4 linked regions of the Homo sapiens genome follow. The protein of the gene in region 1 purifies or fractionates together with the protein of each later gene. This does not show direct contact. Each region holds a gene or a part of one and is shown in the gene's direction. Other genes may lie near its edges. The genes, in order: PPAN, ZNF317, REXO4 and MRPS35.

What was found.
Region 2: the proteins of PPAN (region 1) and ZNF317 purify together in Homo sapiens (affinity purification with mass spectrometry, with the first as the bait; 2 studies listed by BioGRID). This does not show direct contact.
Region 3: the proteins of PPAN (region 1) and REXO4 purify together in Homo sapiens (affinity purification with mass spectrometry, with the first as the bait; 3 studies listed by BioGRID). This does not show direct contact.
Region 4: the proteins of PPAN (region 1) and MRPS35 purify together in Homo sapiens (affinity purification with mass spectrometry, with the first as the bait; 2 studies listed by BioGRID). This does not show direct contact.

Annotation. Positions count from the first base shown.
Region 1 is NC_000019.10:10,109,356-10,112,543, forward strand, and holds the end of PPAN (suppressor of SWI4 1 homolog), read left to right. Parts: intron 1-275; coding exon 276-352; intron 353-393; exon of another isoform or gene 394-485; intron 486-557; coding exon 558-665; intron 666-767; coding exon 768-891; intron 892-968; coding exon 969-1,047; intron 1,048-1,129; coding exon 1,130-1,259; intron 1,260-1,341; coding exon 1,342-1,511; intron 1,512-1,589; coding exon 1,590-1,810; 3' UTR 1,811-2,366; coding exon of another isoform or gene 2,367-2,385; 3' UTR 2,386-2,657; downstream 2,658-3,188. Other genes in the region: PPAN-P2RY11 protein, read left to right, coding at 276-352, 558-665, 768-891, 969-1,047, 1,130-1,259, 1,342-1,511, 1,590-1,667; P2RY11 (P2Y purinoceptor 11), read left to right, coding at 2,367-2,385. UniProt on the Homo sapiens protein: May have a role in cell growth.
Region 2 is NC_000019.10:9,135,985-9,143,425, forward strand, and holds the start of ZNF317 (zinc finger protein 317), read left to right. Parts: upstream 1-4,412; 5' UTR 4,413-4,608; intron 4,609-7,441. UniProt on the Homo sapiens protein: May function as a transcription factor. May play an important role in erythroid maturation and lymphoid proliferation.
Region 3 is NC_000009.12:133,407,974-133,415,010, reverse strand, and holds part of REXO4 (RNA exonuclease 4), read left to right. Parts: coding exon 1-346; intron 347-366; exon of another isoform or gene 367-674; intron 675-2,089; coding exon 2,090-2,233; intron 2,234-2,518; coding exon 2,519-2,712; intron 2,713-3,937; coding exon 3,938-4,026; intron 4,027-6,168; coding exon 6,169-6,243; intron 6,244-7,037.
Region 4 is NC_000012.12:27,720,821-27,727,857, forward strand, and holds part of MRPS35 (small ribosomal subunit protein mS35 isoform 1 precursor), read left to right. Parts: intron 1-3,226; coding exon 3,227-3,366; intron 3,367-4,756; coding exon of another isoform or gene 4,757-4,765; exon of another isoform or gene 4,766-7,037.

The DNA of each region.
Region 1 (3,188 bases):
ACTACAGGCGTGCACCACCACATCCAACTCATTTTTCCATCTACTTTTTGTAGACATGGAGACTCGCCGTGTTGCCCAGGCTGGTTTTGAACTCCTGGGCTCAGGCAGTCCCACCACTTCAGCCTCTGGAGTAGCTAAAACTGCAGGTGCGAGCTGGAAGCAGCATTTCTAGCCAGTGCCACAGTCCACGAACAGTGTGTGTATCCCCCAAAGCCCCCACTTCCCCAAACTTTGCCATGAGTCTACTGGACTATGCTCTCTTCCTCCCCTTCCAGGTGAACCTGAACACCATCAAGCGCTGCCTCCTCATCGACTACAACCCCGACTCCCAGGAGCTGGACTTCCGCCACTAGTGAGTGTCCCAGCAGGATGGGAGACGAGGGGGTGCCGGGTGGGGGCCTCCACATGCGGCTGATGACAGCACTTCTGCTGAGACGCTGTGATTGCTCTGTCCAAAGTAAACGCCCTGACGCACTGTGGGAAGGGTGAGATGGGCACCGCCAGCCCCATCACGTGCCCCCTGACCACCCCCTTGCCGTCCACTCATGTTCCTGCAGTAGCATCAAAGTTGTTCCTGTGGGCGCGAGTCGCGGGATGAAGAAGCTGCTCCAGGAGAAGTTCCCCAACATGAGCCGCCTGCAGGACATCAGCGAGCTGCTGGCCACGTGAGGAGGGCATAGGGCGGGAGGCCACTGCGGCCCGGGGACCCCAGAACAGGACCGGGAGCCTGAGCTCCCCCACTGAGCCCTGTTATGTCCTACACACAGGGGCGCGGGGCTGTCGGAGAGCGAGGCAGAGCCTGACGGCGACCACAACATCACAGAGCTGCCTCAGGCTGTCGCTGGCCGTGGCAACATGCGGGCCCAGCAGAGTGCAGTGCGGCTCACCGAGGTGAGGCCCAGGGCAGGGGGACCCCCGGGCTCCACCAGTCCCAACGGTGGGCTGACGCTTCTTCCTCGTCCCCTCAGATCGGCCCGCGGATGACACTGCAGCTCATCAAGGTCCAGGAGGGCGTCGGGGAGGGCAAAGTGATGTTCCACAGTTTTGGTGAGGCCGGGGCCGCCGGGGGTGGGGGGTCATGGGTGTGGAGCTGCACCCGGATCTTGGTGACCCGCGTCTCTTGGCTCAGTGAGCAAGACGGAGGAGGAGCTGCAGGCCATCCTGGAAGCCAAGGAGAAGAAGCTGCGGCTGAAGGCGCAGAGGCAGGCCCAGCAGGCCCAGAATGTGCAGCGCAAGCAGGAGCAGCGGGAGGCCCACAGGTCCAGGCAGAGCTGGGAAGGGCAGGGCCAAGGGGGGGTCCCTGGGATGGGCGGCTATGTTGACCCCCACGCCCTCCTCCAGAAAGAAGAGCCTGGAGGGCATGAAGAAGGCACGGGTCGGGGGTAGTGATGAAGAGGCCTCTGGGATCCCTTCAAGGACGGCGAGCCTGGAGTTGGGTGAGGACGATGATGAACAGGAAGATGATGACATCGAGTATTTCTGCCAGGCGGTGGGCGAGGCGCCCAGTGAGGGTATGGAGTGGGGTCTGCAGCAGGGCACCCAGAGCCTGTCCTTGTCTCTGGGGGCCCTGACACTGTCTCTCCCCACAGACCTGTTCCCCGAGGCCAAGCAGAAACGGCTTGCCAAGTCTCCAGGGCGGAAGCGGAAGCGGTGGGAAATGGATCGAGGCAGGGGTCGCCTTTGTGACCAGAAGTTTCCCAAGACCAAGGACAAGTCCCAGGGAGCCCAGGCCAGGCGGGGGCCCAGAGGGGCTTCCCGGGATGGTGGGCGAGGCCGGGGCCGGGGCCGCCCAGGGAAGAGAGTGGCCTGAGCCCAAGCCGCACCGGAGCAGCGGCTGGATTGAACGCCCCAGATTGGGGCCCGAGATGTGGCCCTCGGTTTCCTTTCATAAAGGAGTTGTGTCCCCAGCCCTTCCACTCCAGTAAAGAACTGAATTGGCCAGGGGTCCACGTCAGCGTTTGGGATGGGGGATTCTGGAGCCATACAAAGCAACCCAGAGAGTCCTGGGCCGGCCACACCCGAGAGTCCCTCCCACCTGGTTTCTTCCTGGAAGCTGGGTCTCTCCCCTACCCTGCACGGGGTTGGTTTCATTGGTGGCAGCAGCAGCCATGAGTGGCCCCTCCCCCCAGTCCCACCAAAGAGCCGTGCAAGCAGACAGGTCACACTTTCAGCAGATGAGCTTGAACCTCAGGAGGGTTGTGGCACAATGAGGAAGGAAACGTGGGTGGAAAGGCACGCTGGCCTGCTCTGCTGGCTGGGCCAGTAACTGGGGATGGGGCTGGGGCAGGGCCCACTAAGCCACTGGTGACTGGGGGAGGGGCTGGGGAACTGGGTAGCAGACACAGGCTGAGGATCGGCACGGGAGCATGGCAGCCAACGTCTCGGGTAAGGAGAAGGCATGTTGGCTGTCTCTGGGGGTCTGCAGATTGTCAGGAGGTGGGGGTAGTGGGTATTGGTAAAACACCTAGGTCTGGGGCTGGGCACGGTGGCTCACGCCTGTAATCCCAGCACTTTGGGAGGTCGAGGGGGGTGGAACACGAGGTCAGGGGTTCGAGACCACCCTGACCAACAAGGAGAAACCCCGTCTCTACTAAAAATAAAAAAATTAGCTGGGCCTGGTGGCACATGCCTGTAATCCCAGCTACTCGGGAGGCTGAGACAAGAGAATCACTTAAACCCGGGAGGCGGAGGTTGCCATGAGCCGAGATTGCACCATTGCACTCCAGCTTGGGCAATGAGCGAAACTCCATCTCAAAAAAAAAAAGCCTAGGTCAAGGCTGGGTGTGGTGATGCGAGCCTGTGATTCCAGCTACTCGGGAGGCTGAGGCAGGGGGATCACTTGACCCCAGGAGGTCGAGACTGCACTGAGCTGTGATTGCACCACTGCACCTCAGCCTCGGTGACAGTGAAATCCTGTCTCCAAAAAAAAGCCACGTCTAGACGACACTTCCTCCTTAAGCAGGCTGGCGTTGGGAGCAGGGAGGCGCCTCCGGAGAAGCCTGTCCCCAGCCTGCAGAGGCAGGGGTGGGGTGCACAAGGAGTGAGTGCCCCTGTGCTGCTGTGCCCTGGGCACTGTGGTGAGCACTGGCACCAGTAATGGGTAAGCAGGCCCCCCCATCCTCCCGAAGGAGGGAGATTTTTCTCACCGTCATCAGGTGGCGCAGGGTATGGGGGAAAATAACGCAGGG
Region 2 (7,441 bases), 970 kb from region 1:
GGCCTCCCAAAGTGCTGGGATTACAGGCATGAGCCACTGCGCCCGGCCACAACTTCCCTGTTTAATAACAAATGATTTTACAACTTACTGCAGAGAGAAATAGTAACGACCATGAGAAAGATTTCTCACCTTCTTTATTTTTTCTCTTATCCTAGATTCGAGAGATTTCTCACCTTCTTGACACTAGTGCGAAAGTAGTCCAGTAACAACATCACCAGTTCTTTCTTCTTTCACTCTGCAAGCAATGAGATGTCTGCCTTCTTATCTACAGCCAGTATCTCCTGCTTTTTTTTTTTTTTTTCTTTGATACAGAGTCTCTGTCACCCAGGCTGGAGTGCAGTGGCACGATCTCCGCTCACTGCAACCTCTACCTCTTGGGTCCAAGAGATTCTCCGGCCTCAGCCTCCTGAGTAGCTGGGACTACAGGCACGCACCACCACGCCCGGCTAATTTTTGTATTTTTAGTAGAGACGGGGTTTCACCATGTTGGCCAGGCTGATCTCGAACTCCTGACCTCATGGTCCACCCGCCCCGGCCAAAGTGCTGGGATTACAGGCGTGAGCCACCGCGCTCGGCCATCTCCTACTTTTCTATGCAAGGGTTTCTCATCATTGGCACGACTGACATTCAGGACCTGGTATTTCTGTTAGAGGGAGTAGGGCATTCTATACTCTAACCACTAGATGTCAGTAGTATCCCGGGTAGTGGTAAAACCAAAGGCGTCTCCACAGGTGGCACAATTGTCCTTGTTAAGAATCAAAACGTGCCTCACTCATAGGTGGGAATTGAACAATGAGATCACATGGACACAGGAAGGACATCACACTCTGGGGACTGTTGTAGGGTGGGGGGAGGGGGGAGGGATAGCATTGGGAGATATATCTAATGCTAGATGACAAGTTAGTGGGTGCAGCACACCAGCATGGCACATGTATACGTATGTAACTAACCTGCACAATGTGCACATGTACCCTAAAACTTAAAGTATAATAATAAAAAAAGAAAAAAAAACGTGCCTGGCGCCGTGGCTCACGCCTGTAATCCCAACACTTTGGGAGGCCAAGGCGGGTGGATCACTTGAGGTCAGGAGTTCGAGACCAGCCTGACCAACATGGTGAAATCCTGTCTCTACTAAAAATACAAAATTAGCCAGCCATGATGGCTAATTACAGGCTTCATACCTGTAATCCCAGCTACTCGGGAGGCTGAGGCAGGAGAATTGTTTGAAGCCGGGAGGCGGAGGTTGCAGTGAGCCGAGATCGCACCATTGCACTCCAGCCTGGGCGACAAAAGTGAAACTAAGTCTCAAAAAAAAAGGGACCCAGCGTGGTGGCTCACGCTTGCAATCCCAGCATTTTGGGAGGATGAGGCAGGTGGATTGTTTGAGCCCAGGAGTTCAAGACCAGCCTGGGCAAACATAGGGAAACCCTGTCTCTATGAAAAATACAAAAATTAGACAGGCGCTGTGGCATGCACCTGTAGTCCCAGATACTTGGGGGGCTGAGGCAGGAGGATCACTTGAGCCCGGGAGATCGAGGCTGCAGTGAGCCGTGCACTGCAGCCTGGGTGACAGAGCAAGACTTGTCTCAAGAAAAAAAAAAAAAAAAAAGGCATGATACTGGCATAAAAATAGAAACTAAAGGAACAGAACAGAGAGCCTGGGAATAAATCCAAACATATATGATGAACTAATTTTCAATAAGGGCACCAAGAGGACAAAATGGGAAAAGGATAGCCTCTTCCGTAAATGCTGCCAGGAAAACTAGATTTCCACATGCAAAAGAAGGAAATTTGACCCTTATCTTACGCCATACACAAAAATCAACTCAAAATGGATAAAAGACCAAATATATATATATATATTTTTTTGATATTACACCAAAAGATCAGACTACAAAAGCAAAAATTAGTAGACAAATGGGACTACATCAAATTAAAAAGCTTCTACATAGCAAAGGAAACAATCAACAGAATGAATCGGCGATCCACGGACTGGGAAAAAATATTTGCAAACCACATATCTGATAAGGGGTTAATATCCAAAATTTATAAAGAACTCTTATAAATCAATAGCAGAAAAACAAATAACCTGATTTTAAAATGGGCAAAGGGTCTGAACAGACGTTTTTCCAAAGAAGGCATAAAAAAGGCCAGCAGGTATATGAGAAGGTGCTCTACATCACTAATCATCAGGGAAATGCAAATTAAAACCACTGTGAGATATCACCTCACATCCTTAAGGAGAACTATCATCAAAAAGATAGGAGAGGCCGGGCGCGGTGGTTCAAGCCGGTAATCCCAGCACTTTGGGAAGCCGTGGCGGGCGGATCACCTGAGGTCGGGAGTTCGAGACCAGCCTGACCAACATGGAGAAAGCCCGTCTCTACTAAAAAGACAAAATTAGTTGGGCGTGGTGGTGCATGCCTGTAAGCCCAGCTACTCGGGAGGCCGAGGCAGGAGAATCGCTTGATCCCGGGAGGCGGAGGTTGCGGTAGCTGAGATCTCACCATTGCCCCCCAGCCTGGGAAACAAGAACGAAACTCCATTGCAAAAAGAAAAAAAAAAAGGAAAAAAAAGATGAGAGATGAATGTTGGCGAGGGCATCAAGCAAAGTGAACCCTAGTACATTGTTGGTGGGAATGCAGACTGGTACAACCTTTGTGGAAAACAGTATTCAGGCTCTTAAAGAAATCTACAACAGAACTACTATATGACCCAGCAATTCCTCTTTTGAATATATGCCTAAAAGAGATGAAATAATCACCTCATAACGATGTCTGCACTTTCATTTTCATTGTAGCATTATTTACAATATCCAAGTTACGGAAACAACCTGAATGTCCATTGATGCTCACATGAATACGAAATACAAAATAGCAGCTATGTAGTCTGAATAATATTCTATCTCTTTTGTATTTATATATGATGTCAACATTAATATCATATAATATTGATATATATTTCATATTATATTAAATATTAATATAATATGTTGTATATAAATATATACCTATTACATAATAGATATTCCCATTATGTTATATATCATGTAATATATTATATGTAATATATGTATATAATATACTATATGAAATACATATTATATATTATATGTATTATTATATGTATATATGCTATATATTATGGTGTATATATTATGTATTATGAAATATATATTACGTTATGTAATATAGATTATATATTATATATGAATATCTTATATCCATATATATTCCATACATACATTTTATATGTGTGTGTATATATATATATACGCACCATGGTCCATCCCCTCAATAATATATTTTCCAAAACCTCAAATTTCCTTCTCTCTGTCTTTTATAATACCTGCCCTGGATAATACTAACCATCTGTCTCTCCTGCCTATATAATTCTGCCCCTACTGGTTACATGGGAAGCCTTGGTTTCCTAAAGTGTTGAGATTACAGGTGTGAGCCACTGTACCCAGCCTGATTCTGGAATTTTGTATATGCAGACTCCTCCTGCTAAAATAATATATATTATATATAATATATATTCCATAATATATATAACATACATACATATATTATTTTAGCATATATTATATAATATACGGTAATAATACACATAATACATAATTATAATAAATATGATATAATATATATTCCATTGTATAAAACATATAATATATATAACGGAATATTATTCAACCTTGAAATAGAAGGAGGTCCTGACATTTATCACAAGATGGGTGGACCTGGAGGACATTACGCTAAGTGAAATAAGCCAGACACAAAAAGAAAAATATTGCATGACGTCACTTACATGAGGAACTTTTTTTAATCAAGAGAGACAGCTCAAATACACAGAAATAAAGAATGAGGCAGTTGGGGAAGAAAATGGGAAGATGTGGGTCAAAAAATACAAAATAGCAGATATGCAGGATGAACACCACACAGGTGATGGTGATTTTACGCCCTTCCCAAGGTGTCATTCAGAGGCACGTGGTCTCCATCTGACCCTCACTGGTGATATTGATTTGATCACCTGGTCCAGATGTTGTCCAATTTCTTCGCTGTACAATTTCTATTACTTTTTCTCCATTCCAACATACGAGCAGTTTATAGAGAGGCATTTAAGGCAATTCAAATATTCTGCTCGTCATGCAAATGTCCCCCAGTTGTGTCATGTAGATGACAATTCTTGCCTGATTCAACCTTTACCACTACGATGGCTACAAAATGCTGTGGGTTGTGGTTGAAAATTTGAGTCTTGAGTAGAAATTGGAGAAATATGCTGGACCGTCAGATTCCACCGGGGCACGGCCGCCATGCCAATCCAAACTTCAAAACTACAATTCCCAGCATCCTCTCCGCCCCGCTTCCGTATTAGACGCCGCCAATGAAGTCCCGCGAGAATTGGAAGGCGGCAGTGAAGCGGAAGCCATTACTCTCTGGAGTCGATTGCCCCGAGACACATGGGCCAAGGAGGGGTCAGCGGCGAATTCTTTCGGCCTGTTGGGGACCCCTCGTGTCCCCACGCCAGACTGGACCTCCCGTATGAACTTCTCTTCGCATCGGCGGCGGCTTCCGTCACCTCCGCTCCCCCGATCCTATTCCCAGTCGTGTAAGCCCTGCTTTCCTTAACCCTTCTCCCCCTCAGTTCCAGGGGTCACGGGAGGCCTATCTGGCGGTGAGGACTAAGAGGGTACGAGGGTCGGGGGCTAAAGAGCTAGGCATCCAGACGAGGGGTGCGTTTAGATCTCGCGATCAGCGATATGAAAAGCTGGGGACGCGAAGGATAAAATTGGACCATTGCAGCTAGTGATGAGAGAAGCATTGGTCACCTGATCCTGAAAAGCCCTAAGTCTCTGGTGGGGGCGGAAAAGCCCGGCTGAAGTGAATTCAAGAGTTTGGGGGCAGTTCAGGAGATTGGGGGGCGTCAGGATTTGGACATCGCGAGGAGAAATCACCTTCTTTCTGCGCTGTAGTCAATTTTATCTCGTGAATGTCAGCACATTGGTGTTCTTATTAGCACTTACCTTGAGTACCTTTTATATTTTTAATTTAAGACCTTCTGGTTGCACTTTTTTATTTATTTTAATTTTAGTGGACTCTTGTAAATAGCCTATATGTATATTTACTATTCAGTTCAACATTTTGTTAATTAACTTGAGTTAGTCCAGTTATACTTATCGTGATTATTAATATTTTCCATTGAATTTTACCGTCTTATTTTGTGGTGTGTCCTTTCCTATGCACATATTTTAACACTGGAAAATAGGACATACATGCAAAAAAAGTATGATTACACACACACGCAGACTTACACACACTTAAAAGGACAACAGTAAAGCGAATTTACAAACCAGGCCAAGAAAGAGATTATTAAATCTCAGAAAGCTGTGTGCCTCTTCTAAACTGCATCCTCCTCTCCCACCAATACTGTCTCCGTGGATTTGACTGCGTATACATCTTTTCCAGAAAATATATTTCCTAAATTTTGGTAATTATTTGTGAATGAACTCAGGCGCTTCAGTATTTTTGGAAACAATCTTTTTCTGTATTGATTCAAGCACACCTTTGTAATTTAGAGATTTCTAAATATCTTGTAGATGAAGTACTTACACCTAGCCATTCTTTTTCAGGAATGTCATGGCTTAAATTCTAGTCAGTTCACCAAATTCCACATACTGGACTTTTGTTTTCAAGTTGTGGTGAATCTATATTTGAACTTTGGGAATATTGTCGTTTTTATGCCATTGAGTTGCAGTTAATTGATTTACATCATTTATTTACATCTTCTTTAATGCCTTTCAATAAAGTGTTTTTTGTTGTTGTTGTTGTTTTTTCCTTTTTGAGATGGAGTCTCACCCTTGTAGCCCAGACTGGAGTGCAATGACAATCTCGGCTCACTGCAACCTCTGTCTCCCTGGTTCAAGCGGTTCTCCTGCCTCAGCCTCCCGAGTAGCTGGGAATACAGGCACCCACCACCACACCCAGCTAAATTTTGTATTTTTAGTGGAGATGGGGTTTCAACATGTTGGCCAGGCTGGTCTCGATCTCCTGACCTCAGGTGATCCACCGGCCTTGGCCTCCCAAAGTGCTGGGATTGCAGGAGAGAGCCACGATGTCCGGCTCAGTAAAGTTTTATAAGTACCTGCAAAAAGGATTTAGGTTGTTTTTGTTATATTTATTCTTGGGAACTTTGTTTTTTGGTGCTCAGAAAAGTCTAACTTTTGTGTAGTTTGTTGGATGTTCTTCGTAGACAAGGAAAATGTGTACAATTCAAAAGGAAAATACAAATATTTATTTTATACAGACGATAAATTGTCTTTTTTGTTTGTTTGTTTGTTTGTTTGTTTTTTGTGCTGGACTGGGTGGGGACTTCCCTTGTCATTGACTGGAGTTTGGATGGCACACTCTAGGCAAGCCTGTTTGTTTTCTGATCTTAAAGGGAATTGTCATTTGTGTCTGCCGAAGGCTTTTCTGTCGAATAGTTTTTATTAGGTCAAGGAAGCTCCCCTCTTTTCCTACTTGAGTTTTTCTTGTGAATTGCTGCAGGCTTTTAACAAGTGATTTTTTTTTTTTTTTTGCCATTATGTATCTGTTTATTGATACATTTTGTATCTGTTTGATACAAAATCTATATTGATAGTTTTGTATCTGTTTATTGATACATTTCTAGTACCTTAAATTATGGCACTCAGTACTGCTGTGTAACAAATTAATGAGTGAATAATATAATTTTTTTTCTATCCTGTAGTGTGGCAAATTAAACCAATTGATTTTCTCTTGTTACATTGAATTTGTATTGGTAAATAATTTGGAAAGGACATGTTACTATTTGTTACTTTTGGCTTCGGTTTGCTAATACTTTGTTTGGTGTTTTTGGATCTATGCTTGAGTGAAATGTTCCTTTTCTGTTTCAGATTTATGCCAGCCTCATAAAATGGGATGAGAAGTGTTCTGTTTTCTAAACTCTGGAATGTTTTGCATAAGAATAGAATATTTTGTTCCTTAGAACGGGAGTGGTACCTGGAAAAACCATTTGGGTCTGGAGTTTTCTTTGTGGAAAGTTTTAAAGCTATTGTTTCTGTTCTTTTAAGGTTTGTGGGGCATTCAGGTTTTCTGTGTTGTTATGATGAGTAAAATTTCTTTAGGAATTTATTTATTCCATCTGAGGTTTAAATCGTATAGTCAGGGTTGTTCATAACATACTCAAATTTTTAATGCTTGCTGCATTTGTAATGTTATCCACTTTTTTATTTATAATAATTATATGTTGCTTTTTACAAAAATAAATTCCATCAGAATGTTGTCAGTTTTCTTCTTAAAGAACTTCTGGCTTGATTGAACCACTTTATGATATATATGTTTTCTATTTTATAACTTTCTGATTGTTATCATTTTCTTCCTTTTTGGGATGTTTCTTTCCAGTTTCTTATGTTGAATGCCTG
Region 3 (7,037 bases), on another chromosome or scaffold:
GGCTGCTGAAACAAAAATCTCAGGCCCCAGAAAAGCCTCTTGTCATCTCTCAGATGGGTTCCAAAAAGAAGCCCAAAATTATCCAGCAAAACAAAAAAGAGACCTCGCCTCAAGTGAAGGGAGAGGAGATGCCGGCAGGAAAAGACCAGGAGGCCAGCAGGGGCTCTGTTCCTTCAGGTTCCAAGATGGACAGGAGGGCGCCAGTACCTCGCACCAAGGCCAGTGGAACAGAGCACAATAAGAAAGGAACCAAGGAAAGGACAAATGGTGATATTGTTCCAGAACGAGGGGACATCGAGCATAAGAAGCGGAAAGCTAAGGAGGCAGCCCCAGCCCCACCCACCGAGTAAGTATGGGCCACCTCACCACTGAGAACCGAGGCACAGCGACTTCACCAAGGCCTGTCTCCTTATGGAGGCTGGTGGCCTCACCGCAGTCTCTCCATCACTTTACCCTGATGTCGTCTGTTCCTTTGTTTACTCGCTGTTACTTGTTTTCCCCTAGAGTGTGCGCATGATAAGGCAGGGCCTGCTTCTTCCGAGCGTTGAGCAGAGCTCAGCATTTAGTGGGTGCCAGTACACGTGTGTGGAAGGAAAGCGTGCTGAAGCCAGAAAGACCCAAGTATGAGGCCTGTCCCTGCTTCTCGCCAGTTGGGTGGTTTGGGGCAAGTTTCTGACGTCCTCTGTGCCTTGTGGTAGTCATGGTGGCATCATAAGGAGATTGTGAGGTTGGCACTCTTGGCTCAGTGCCTGGTGATTACTTCAACCCTGTGATGGAGCCAGGTGTGGTGGCTGTTGCCTGTGATCCCAGCTCCTTGGGAGGCCAAGGTGGGAGGATCACTTGATCCCAGGAGGTTGAGGCTGCAGTGAGCTGTGATTGCACTACTGCCTCCAGCCTGGGTGACGGAGCAAGACTCTCAAAAAAACAAGTGAAAAGAATAAACCCTGTGCTGGCCACCCACGTGGGGTGGACCGGGAGTCAGTGGCCTTCTCTGAATGGTTCAGCTGGAGGTGACGTGTTCATAAGTTACAGCTGGCTTCATGTTGCCTGGGTGTTCAGGACACAGTCGCTGATGGCTGAGGAATGAGCCATTTGGGGGCCTCCCTGTGTTGTGCTAGGCAGGCTGTCTGGGATAGAGTTCAGTGAGGTGGGCCTGCTCCTCCCTCTTGAGGCTTATTGTCAAGTGCAGTAGACAGACTGTAAACTGCAGCTGTTGATTAAGTGTGGTCAGGATAAATCTAGTGAGGAGAAGGTATTGGGCGCCTGGAACAAGAGGGACGTGTCCATTCAGTGGGGCCAGGAATGGCTTTTCTAAGGAAATGACATTTAACCTTAGCCCAAGAGACAGATTCCCCAGGCAGGTGTTACGTGCCTGTGTGAGCTTCCTAGTACGGAGGGCAAGGGGTTCTGTGTTTCCATCTTACAGGCATTCTGTCTGTCTGTTTCCTAAGTGTTCAATAATGAACGTGTTACCTTCATAATTAAAATGTTAGCACTCATTACACTTGGGTGGTGGGTTATGTGTTTCTGTTTTATATTCTTTGTGTTTGTCTGTGTTCCTAAATCTTGAATAATGAGTGTATTTTCTAATTAAAAAGAAAAGAGATGAGGCCAGGTGCTGTGACTCACACCTGTAATCCCAGCTCTTTGGGAGGCCGAGGCAGGTGGATCACTTGAGGTCAGGAGTTCAAGACCAGCCTGGCCAACATGACGAAACCCCGTATCTACTGAAAATACAAAAAATTAGCCAGGCGTGGCAGTGGGCGCCTGTAAAATCCCAGCTACTAGGGAGGCTGAGACAAGAGAATCACTTGAACCTGGGAGGCAAAGGTTGCAGTGAGCCAAGATCATGCCACTGCACTCCAGGTTGGGTGACCCAGTGAGACTCCATCTCAAAAAAAAAAGGAAAATGCCAAGATGATCAAAATAGCAGAAGCAGCAGGGCCAGCAGTCGGGGTGTCTGGGGCCAGCCTGTGGGAGAGGCAGGCTGTGCCATCGCTCCACTCACCTGCACAGTCAGCCCCACAGCCCCACCCCACCAGTTGCACTAGGGTCTTCTGGTGATCAGCCTGTTATCTTTGCCTTTTAGGGAAGACATCTGGTTTGACGACGTGGACCCAGCGGATATCGAAGCTGCCATAGGTCCAGAGGCGGCCAAGATAGCGAGGAAACAGTTGGGTCAGAGCGAGGGCAGCGTCAGCCTCAGCCTCGTGAAAGAGCAGGCCTTCGGCGGGTACGCTGGTCTCAGGGAGTGGGGTCTGCTGGGGATGCTTAGCCGTGGAGGGCGGGGCTTCTTCAAGGAAGAGGATGCTTTCCTCTCCCTGAGGTGAATGAGGCAAGCACCTCCCAGGGTCCTGCTAAGAACCAGGACCACACAGAGCTTGTCACGTGGGTGCAAATGAGTGAGGGGCAGAGAGCTTTTCTCTGCTGACACTTAGTCCATGGATCCCTGGGGCTCTGACCTGGAGCCCTGTGGCCTGCCGTGTTTATTAAACTACAGCCTTTGGTTACCCTTCAGCCTGACAAGAGCCTTAGCCTTGGACTGTGAGATGGTGGGCGTGGGCCCTAAGGGGGAGGAGAGCATGGCCGCCCGTGTGTCCATCGTGAACCAGTATGGGAAGTGCGTTTATGACAAGTACGTCAAACCAACCGAGCCCGTGACGGACTATAGGACAGCGGTCAGTGGGATTCGGCCTGAGAACCTCAAGCAGGGTATGTCATCCACAGCTCAGGAACTTAGAAGGGAAAGTAGTAACTGGATTCGTTTTCTCCCTTTTGTTCCCTTTTCTGTCTGAGACCACTCACTGCAGCTGGTTTTGATGCGTCTTGTCTCCTTTTGGGGCGATGGGTTTTAAAATACAAAAGGCATCCTTAGACGGCTTTACACCCATTTATGCCTTGCACTTCATTGCCTCCTGTCCGCTGACTTCAAGACCAGGCCAGTAGCTGGGCACGGTGGCTCATGCCTGTAGTCCCAGCTACTCAGGAGGCTGAGGAGGGAGGATTGCTTGAACCCAGGAGTTCAAGTCCAGCCTGGACAACATAGCGAGACCTCATTTCTAAAAAAAATTATTATTTTTTTTTGAGATGGAGTTTTGCTCTTGTTGCCCAGGCTGAAGTGCAATGGCACAATCTGGGCTCACTGCAACCTCCGCCTCCTGGGTTCAAGCGATTCTCCTGCCTCAGCCTCCCGAGTAGCTGGGATTACAGGCATATGCCACCACACCCGACTAATTTTGTATTTTAAGTAGAGACAGGGTTTCTCCACATTGGTCAGGCTGGTCTTGAACTCCCGAACTCAGGTGATCCGCCTGCCTCCGCCTCCCAAAGTGCTGGAATTACAGGCATGACCCACTGCACCTGGCCTTCTAAAAAATATTTTTAAAAAATTAGCTGGTCCCACTTGGCTCGGGCCACCCTTGGTCTAATCACCCCTGTTCGGGGGGTACAAGTGGGGTTGGTGGTGGGGTGGTCCCCAGAAGCAGGCAAGGCTGCCTCTGGAGCCCAGGGCCTAGGGCAACACATCTCTACCCATTTTTGTGGGGGCAGTTTTGTTTTTATTTCCATTTGGGAAATTGTCAAGTAAATCATGAGGTTGAATAGGCAGAACCACGCTGCCAGGCGGCTCTAAAAGTTTCTCAGTGCCTACACTCAACATATGCTCTCCTCCAGCCATGAGCCGACTTTGCAGACTGTGTGGAGCACTTTATTCCTCTCCTCAGAGGTGGTTCTCGCAGCCACCCCTGCCAGGGGCCCACAAGGCACTTCTCCCAGGGGGGTGGGTGGATGTGGTGGCTTCGAGTCACCCTCCGTAGTGGCATTGCAGGCCTGACCATTTGTCTTAGGTCTGACCAGGGGTAGGAGCGGGGCTGCCTCCTCACAGAATGATGGTGATGTGTGTGTTGCAAAAAACCGCTTCTTTGTGTTGATTTTCCAGGAGAAGAGCTTGAAGTTGTTCAGAAGGAAGTGGCAGAGATGCTGAAGGGCAGAATTCTAGTGGGGCACGCTCTGCATAATGACCTAAAGGTACTGGGCTCTCTCCTGGGGACTCAGCCTGCCCCTGCTCCGTGGGTGTTACACTCACGCCCTTGCTGTGTTGGGGAGTTTTAACAATGTGTGGGTTTGTGCTCTATGTTGGGAATACTTTGGTAATAATATCAGATACCGCGTGCTGAGTTCTTACTGTGTTTTAGGAGCCATGCCAGGCTCTTGTTTTGAGAGCCCCCAGCGAAACTGGGGTACCCATACCAGAGCAGCTGGCAACCCCGCCCTAATGAGAAATGAAGGTGCTGATACCCCTTTTACCTGGAGGAAGGCCTAATGTCCAGTTGTCCCATCCGTGACCAGGGTCCCTCCACAGGAAACAAGTTTATCCTGGCAGATGCCCTGTGGCCCATGTTCAGGTTACGCTTGCCTAACCATCACCCTGGCCCTGGGAGCTTGCCTTTGCCTTCTTTCTGGCGTCCCGAGGAAAATCCCGCCTGGGGCAGCCCCTGGTTCTTCAGATGGAAAGTGCAAATTCAGACACCACCACCGTGGGAAACAAGTTCAAAGACATATACAGACCCTGGGCAGGGAAGGCGTCATGGGTGGGGAGGGCAGCCTGCCATCTCCTGGTCACCCGAGGCAGGAATGAAGAGTCAGGCAGAGCGAGTACGTGTGTATTTACAGGAGAACAGGGTGGGGGTCACTTTGAGTTTATGGGCAAATGCCTGGATGTTGGTTTAAAGGACACAGTGGGAACAGCGGGGAGGCCAGTCTGCTAGATGGGAGAGACACTTAAGTTGTCACCTCTGCCCACCGGCTTGAAGCACTTGGGTGTGGTGAGGAACTTGAAGCCGTTCAGAAGGAAGTGACAGAGATGCTAATGTTCAGGCAGCAGCCTTTGCTATGGTGCTCCCGTGACGGCACTGTAGAGATCCCTTGAATCCATTGAAGATGCTGGAGGTGTTCATGCTTGTTTACAGAGGGTGAAACTGAGGTGAGAACCCCCCGGGCAGTGTCCTCACAGAAAGGTCTTCTGTGTGCTCCTGCTGTACCCCCTCAGAGACTGCTGCCGTGGGGACTCGTCCTTCCCTCCTGACTCTGACTCCATCCCTGGCACCTTGCGCAGCACATGTTCAAGTCTTTCTTGAAGATGATGCTAAGGACCAGACACAGTGGCTTATGCCTGTAATCGCAGCTTTTTGGGAGGCTGAGGCTGGAGGATTGCTTGAGGCCGGGAGTTAGAGACCAGCCTGAGTAACATAGGGGAGACCCCATCTCTATAAAAAATTTTAAAATTAGCCAGGTGTGGTGGCGTGTGCCTGTTGTCCCAGCTACTCAGGAGACTGGGGTAGGAGGATCAGTTGAGCCCAGGAGGTTAAGGCTGCAGTGAGCCATGATTACCCTATAGCACTGCAGCCCAGGTGACAGAGTGAGATCCTATCAAAAAACAAAACAAAACAAAAAATTGCATGCTAAGATTGCAAGATGAGCTGTTAAAATGTGTTATTTGCAACTTCCTGATGTGTAGAACCAACTCAAAATACAAGTATAATATAGGAATAAGTTGGTTGCTGGTTAACTGTTGACTGTTTTTCTCCTACTTCCTTGATTTCAAGATTTTGTTTTTATTGTCTCTGACTGTTGGGCATCAGCTTAAGTCAGTGCAATAAATTTCCTTCTGGAGTTGAAATTCATATCAGTGCCTTGTTTCCATGTGTGTGTGACACACTTGGATTCCCTACAAGATGTTACTTGCAGGGCAGCCGCGTTGGCTCACACCTGTAATCCCAGCACTTTGGGAGGCCGAGGCGGGTGGATCACCTGAGGTCAGGAGTTCGAGACCAGCCTGGCCAACATGGCAAAACCCTGTCTCTACTAAAAAATACAAAAATTAGCCAGGCATGGTGGCGGGCACTTGTAATCCCAGCTACTCGGGAGGCTGAGGCAGGAGAATCACTTGAAACCTGGGGTCGGAGGTTGCAGTCAGCAAAGATTGAGCCACTGCATTCCAGCCTGGGTGACAGAGCAAGACTCCGTCACACACACACACACACACACACACACACACACACACACACACACACACACAAAGATGTTACTTGCAAAAGGTGGCGGGGGGAGGGGGTTCTGCTACTACAAACCAAAAATGAAAATGATTATCATTATATTTTATTTTTCTAGGTACTATTTCTTGATCATCCAAAAAAGAAGATTCGGGACACACAGAAATATAAACCTTTCAAGAGTCAAGTAAAGGTACTTAGAATGAGTGTGACTCAAGATACTGTATTTCTGTTTTGCTGGTCACTTCATTGTTTCTGGTCACTGGTGGCTGACTTGTTGGTTAAAGGGTTTTTGTTTTTTCTTTTAACCTTTAAAACTAGAAGGAATGTTTAAAAATAGAGTTCTGCTAATTGCTGACCTTAAAAATGATTGCAACGGAGGGCAAGTTATTTCCACTCTAACCTCTGAAACAGGGTCACTGACTAAGGGCCTGGTACCACTGTCGTATCTGCTCTAGAGGGTGCCAAGGGCAGAGCCGTTCTTCATCCTTTTTTTTTTTTTTAGACAGGGTCTTGCTCTGTCACCCAGGCTGGAGTGCAATGGCATAATCTTGGCTCACTGTAACTGCCACCTCCCAGGCTCAGGCAATCCTTCCACCTTAGCCTCTGAAGTAGCTGGGACTGCAGGCATATGCCACCACCCCTGGCTAATTTTTTTATTTTTATTTTTTTAGAGATAGGGTCTTGCTGTGTTGCCCTGGCTATTCTCAAACTCCTGGGTTCAAGTGATCTGCCCTCGTTGGCCTCCTAAGTGCTGAGATTACAGGTGTGAACCACCATGCCTGGCCAGAGCTGTCCCTCTTGAAATAAGCAGGGAGGCCTCAAGATGGGAGATGGGGATGCTGACTCCTCCCCTGGCCCTCTCCTTTTATTGGCTGATAGGGGTGTATCACCAGCCCATCATGCTATAAATGGCAGCTGGTGGCTACCACCCTAAGTGCCATGAGCACCTCTCCACTGAGAGGCAAACTGTAGGTCGCTTGGGTG
Region 4 (7,037 bases), on another chromosome or scaffold:
TCTCCTTCTTTCTACATGCATGGAGGTAAAGGCAAATAACATTTTTTAACTCATGGTTCTGTGTATGCTTTTATAATTATGTATATATTCCAATTTAAGTTCTGATTGATAGTTATGATTGATTAGATTTATTTAGGAGTTGGTACCTTTGGATAAAGTCTTAATATACTCATGCTGATTTAAAGGTGTTGTATATTACATGCTCAGTATACTTACTAAGGCTTTTCAGGAAAGAATATGAAACCTAGAAACACTTCACAAGTATCCTGATTATGTTGGGAAGGAGATGTGGAATAGTAAACATAATTATGATTAAATTTGAGCTTTTGAAAGGGCCTTCCGTTTAAAAATGTAAGGAAGACTATATAAAGAGGTCCTAAAACATAGGAATAATAACCTTACTCTTGAAATGAGGGAGGAAAAATCTGTTGCCTCTTAATAGGTCTTCTACTTTAGGACATTGGGATGCTTTTCTATCCCTTTAGAGTGTGTGTTTCTCTATGCATTTGTGCCTGGAATTAGATTAAAACTGATCACTTCCAAATTTGTGTCCCAGGCTGGGCATGGTGCCTCACACCTGTAATGCTCGCACTTTGGGAGTCTGAGGTGGGTGGATTGCTTGAGCTCAGGAGTTCAAGACCAGCCTGAGCAATGTGGTGAAACCCCATCTCTACAAAAAACACAAAAAATTAGCCGGGTGTGGTGGCATGTGCCTGTAGTCCCGGCTACTCGGGGGCCTGAGGCAGGAGGATTGGAACCCAGGAGATTGAGGCGGCAGTGAGCTCAGATCACGCCATTGCACTCCAGCCGGGGTAACAAAGTGAGATCCTGTCTCAAACAATAAAAAAAAATAAAATAAAATAACAAGTTTTTGTCCCGTTTGCCACAAATCATGTATTAGTATTTGATCATCTGTAAAGACAGTTAACAAATGGCATTGCACTGTGAAAAATTCCATGTTTCTTCTTTTTAAATGTGACAGGGCGTGGTAGCTCATGCTTTTAATTCCACAGTACAGCACTTTGAGAGGCCAAGGAAAAAGGATTGCTTGATCCCAGGAGTTTGAGACCATCCTGAGCAACATAGTGAGATCATGTCTCTACAAAAATATTAAAAAATTAGCTGGGGTGTGATGGCGCATGCCTGTGGTCCCAGCTACTCTGTAGGCTGAGGTGGACGACAGAGTGAGACCCTGTCGCAAAAAAACATAAAAATAAAAAAGTTTAAAAAAATTAAATGAAAGGCTTTTATACAGCACATTCGGAAGAGTGGCATTATATTTTATAGTATTTAAATGAGTGTCTTAATCTTTCCTTAATTATCCCTTTACACTTGCTGCTGGCCTCCGGATTCAGATTGCGTCTTCCGTATAACTCAAAGGCTTTTCAAGTACTTCTTCTCAGTTTTCTTTCAAAGTAGGTCAGTTCAGATTTTATATCTAACTTGCAAATGGAAAATCTGAAGCATGGGAAAGTTAGGTAATTTACCAAAACTTTAATAATCAGTGGCAGAAGTTAAATACAAACTAAGGTCTTCCAAAGTCTCATCTATTGCTCTACCTATCAGATGAGTAAAGGCTAATAGGAGTCTATTATGTGTTTTCCATTTGGCTGTCTTTTTTTAGACATATAATTTAGGTAATTTAATTTTAAAACTGTAATTATCATTTGATGATTGAAATGACTTATTCACATTTTTTTTTTTAAGTAAAAGAAAAAAGAGTCAGTGCAAACCCAAGAGCTCACAAAATTCCCCAAACTAGTCTCTCTTATAAAGTGCTTGGAAGTGATGCATCTTATAGTGCAGGATATTGGAGTAAGTTCATGATGGGAATGAAATTCAGCCTCAACAATCTTGCTCTGTTCATATTTTTTCAATGTTACAATGATGTTAATTGCAAAGATACTTCTTTCCCCTCAAAACGACCGGGTATTGATTTTTTAAACAGTGTTCAAGGAATGGAGTGAACTATGTTTAATTTGTTAACATGTTTAGTCCCAGATATCAGAGAGTCTTTGTAATCCAGAGTGACATTTTGCAGACTCTGATTTTAAAGCCTAAATGAGAGCAAAATATTGTTCCTATTATAAGAAAATCGTTAGCCCAAGGAAATGTTATTGGCAAAATAGTTCTCACTGCCCCTTAGACTGTCACCTAGAAGAGCTCCCACATCTGCCTGTGATTATGACCAGCCTTTTCTGCAGTTGTGCTTTTTTGGAGGAAGCATGGATCTGTGCAGTCTAATATGTTTGACCCAAGAAACCAGTTACTTTTAGCTGTTCTTAGAGTGAGGCTGTTTAAGAAATGAGATTTCCATTGTGGACAGCCTTATAGTGCCAGAAGTTTTCATCTCAAGCTGAAAGTTCTCTGCCATGCTAACTTGATTGAAACAGGACAAGATGAAATCAGCTCTGATACCTGGGGGAAGCTGGGAGCTACCTCTTTTCCTTTAAGTTTTTTTTTTTTTCCCATTAGGGGCCTGAGTTTATGCTTCTGTGTTATGAAGATAGAGAGGCATGTTCACAGTGCTTGGAGCTCCTGTTGTGGCCTAGGTCTCAGACCCAATCCCACTTCCTCTCTATGCTCTCTTGCCCAAATATGAGGACAAGGCTTTCTTCTTTCCATTTAACCCCATTGGCACATAGAAGTCACATAGAAAAAATATCAGTTCTTATAAGAATCCATTTAAGGGCTTAGGCATTTGTACCTGTTTGAGTTGAGGTTCTATTCAGCCAAATTTCTAGACGACTGTTGACTCCATCTCAGTTTCTTCTTAGGGCTTTTTGAGAGCTTTCAATTCCTTTCAGCTGATCTTTAGTAACCTTTAGTAATTAATACTATCTGTTACTTTTTTGAAAACAGTAATGCTGTGGGCACTATGAACTGTTTGCTTTTAGTTGGTACAGAGGAAGTAAACTGTCCAGTAACAGATATGTGCAAAGCTTATAATAAGCTTCCATCAAGGCACAGTTCCCTTTTAACTGAAAATACCATTACCACCAAACCTGAAATATCCAAAGAATTCCCTAATTAAATTGCCTAATTTAGGATGTACCTGATAGGAAAAGGGATAAGGGATGATGCTATATATGTAAAGTGCAGAAGAGAATCTGTTCTTTCATGTAACTTGGTGATGCTCTCAGTAATTTGGTATTGTCTAGTAGTATGCATTACAATGAGAATTTACTTGCAAAAGTGTAATTGAAATTATTTCTTTTATTCTCAGATTTTTGCACTGAGTGGCCAGCCGCACTGGACAGTGACGAGAAATGTGAGAAGCATTTTCCAATTGAAATTGACAGCACTGATTATGTTTCATCAGGACCATCTGTTCGGAACCCCAGAGCACGAGTAGTAGTCTTAAGAGTAAGAGTTTTTTTCATTTTTTTTTTTTAAATAAGAATCATTCTAATACATTATTTAAAGATGTCTTTGGTGGCTGGCACAGTGGCTCATGCCTGTAATCCCAGCACTTTGGGAGGCCAAGGTGGGAGAATTGCTTGAGCCCAGGAATTTGACGCCAGCCTGGGCAACATAGCAAGAACCTATCTCTAAAAATAAAGAAAGAAATTGATATGTGTGATTATAAAACTGTAATATTTTTCACAGAAATTTTGGAAAATACAAGTTTCAAATTATACACCAGGCATGGTGGCTCCTGCCTGTAATCCCAGCACTTTGGGAGGCCGAGTCAGGCGGATCACCTGAGGTCAGGAGTTCAAGACCAGCCTGGCCAACATGGTGAAACCCCGTCTCTACTAAAAATACAAAAATTAGCTGGGCGTGGTGGTGGGCACCTGTAATCCCATCTACTCCGGAGGCTGAGGCAGGAGAATTGCTTGAACCCGGGAGGCAGAGGTTGCAGTGAGCTGAGATCGCTCCACTGCACTCCAACCTGGGTGACAGAGCGAGATTCCATCTCGGAAAAAAAAAAAATTACAAAATTGCCCGTAAATCTACTATTTGTAACCACTGTTAACTATAGTAGCTCATTTTAGTATATAGTCACAGCCTGCCTTTGTGTATATTAATGGGATGATACTGTATGTGTTCAGCAGTCTCTTAACAAGAATTAAACATTTCCCAATAATATTAAACATTCTTTAATTTAATTTGAATTTTTTTGAGATGAGATCTGACAGGCAGAGAGTAGTGGCACTAACATAGCTCAATGTGGCCTCCAATTTCTGGGTTCAATTGATTGTCCTGCCTCAGCCTCCAAAGTGGCTGGGACTACAGGTGTGAGACACTGCCCAGCCCATTTTCTTAAATTTTTTGTAGATACAGGATCTCACTTTGTTGCCCAGCTTTTCTTGAACTCCTGGCTCAAGTGATCTTCCCACTTCCGCCTCCCAAAGCACTGGAATTACAGGTGTGAGCCACTGCACCCAATCTAATTTAATTTTAATGGCTGCATAGAATAACGTATAAATGAGAGATTGTTATGTACCAAGACAGTGTTTGAATCTGGGGGTGTAATGTTGATCACTTCAAACTTAGCCTTTTTTCTGAGACTGAAGTGTGATATATAAATAATTTCATAATACAGGGCTACCATAATTTATCTGTATTATGGAACCTTTAGGCTTTTTAATGGTTTTCTTTATTAGAAAAATATTTTAATGAATATTCTTAGGTATTAATATTTGTATGTATTTCTAATGATGTTCCTAAGATAACTTCCTGAAAGGAGAACTATGAGGTCAAAGGATATAGCTCTTGAAGTTTGTTGATATATATTATAAAATTCCTGCAGGAAATGTAAAAAAATATAATCCCAGCAGAATGTGAGAAGGCCTGCTTTCCTGTGCTCTCACCAACCTACATATTACCTGTCAACTTGATAGGTAAAAAATTTGTCTTATATTTAAAATTTGTATGTCTTTGAATACTAGTGAGGTTGAGGATTTATTCCTTTGCAAAACATGTATTTTTTGTCATTTGCTCATTTTGGTGGTGTATTGATTCCTTGTATACCTTTTTTTTTTTTTTTTTTTTTTTTTGAGACAGGGTCTTACCCTGTCACCCAGGCTGAAGTGCAGTGGCGCGATCTTGGCTCACTGCAGTCTCTTCCATCCGGGCTCAAGTGATTCTCCCATCTCAGCCTCCTGAGCAGTAGCTGGAACTGCAGGAGTGTGCCACCATGCCTGGCCAATTTTTTTGAATTTTTGTAGAGACAGGGTTTTGCCATGATGCCCAGGCTGGTCTCAAATTCCTGGACTCAGGCGATCTGCCTGCCTTGGGCTCCCAAAGTGCTGGGATTACAGATGTGAGCCACCACTACAGGGCCGTTGTTTCTTTTTAATAATGGCTTTATTGAGACATAGTTCACTTGCTATAGAATTCCCCCCTTAACCATCCTCAAGCCCCTTTTAGCCACTAATCTACTTTTTGTCTCTGGATTTACCTATTCTTGATGTGTTACAGAAATGGAACCATGCAATATGTTTTCTTTCACTTAGTGTAATGTTTTCAATAGGTTTCATCTGTTGTAGCATGTATTATTTTATCATTTCTTTTTATTGCCAAATATTTTATTTTATGAATATACCACATTTTATTTATCCATTCATTAATTGGTGGACATTTGGGTTGTGTCTACTTTTTGGATGAATAATGCTGTTGAACATTCACATACAGGTTTTTGTGTAGATATGTGTTTTCCATTCTCTTGGGTATATACCTAGCAGTGGAATGACTGAGTTGCATGGCACCTCCATATTTAACATTTTGAGGAACTGCCAAACTGTTTTTGAAAAACAATTTCAAAGTGGCTTCACTATTTTACAATTTCACCAGCAAGTTTGAGGCTTTCTATTTCTCCACATCCTCACTAATGGTTATTACCTGTCCTTTAGTTTTAGCCATTCTGATAGGTATGAAAGTATCATTGTAGTTTTGATTTGTGTCTCCCTAATAACCATCTTTTCATGTGCTTGTTGACTATTTGTATATGTTTGGAGAAATGTCTGTTCATATCCTTTGCCTGTTTTTTAATTGGGTTGTTTATCTTTCGATTGTTGAGTTATAAGTGTATTTTATATATTCTGGACACCAGTCCCAGTCCCTTCTCAGATATATGATTTGTAAACATTTTCTTCCATTCTTTGGGTTGTCCTCTTACTTTCTTGATGATGTCCTTTTTTTTTTTTTTTTTTGAGACGGAGTCTCACTCTGTCACCCAGGCTGGAGTGCAGTGGCTCGATCTCAGCTCACTGCAAGCTCCGCCTCCTGGGTTCACAGCATTCTCCTGCCTCAGCCTCCCGAGTAGCTAGAACTACAGGCACCCGCCACCACGCCTGGCTAATTTTTTGTATTTTTAGTAGAGATGGGGTTTTCACCGTGTTAGCCAGGATGGTCTCGATCTCCTGACCTTGTGATCTGCCTGCCTCAGCCTCCCAAAATGCTGGGATTAGAGGCGTGAGCCTTTTAAGCACAGAAGTTTTAATTTTGATGAAGTCCAATTTATGTAAGTCATGTGCTGCATAATGATGTTGTGGTCAGTGATAAACACATACACAACAGTGGTCCCAAGAGATTATAATACTGTATTTTCACTGCACTTTTTCTATGTTTAGATATGTTTAAATACACAAGTACAATTTTGTTACAGTTGTTACAGTATTTAACAGTAACATGCTACACAGGTTTGTAGCCAAGGAGCAATTGACTATACCATGTAGTCTAGGTGTGTAGTAGGCTGTACCACCTAGGATTGTGTAAATACATAATGATGTTTGTACATGACAAAATCACCTAGCCATGTCTTTGTCAAAAAATATTGTTAAGTGGCGTATGACAGTATTTTTCCTTTTGTTTCTTGTGCTTTTGGTGTCATATGTAAGAAATCATTGTCTTATTCAAGGTCATAAAAGATTCACTCTTGTGTTTCCTCCTAAAAGTTTTATAGTTTTAGCTCTTACATTTAGATCTATGACCTATTGTTTGTTAATTATCATACAGTTGTTCCTCAGTATCTGTTTGGGATTGGTTCCAGGAACGCTTGTAAATTCATAGATCTGTGGATGCCTAAGTCC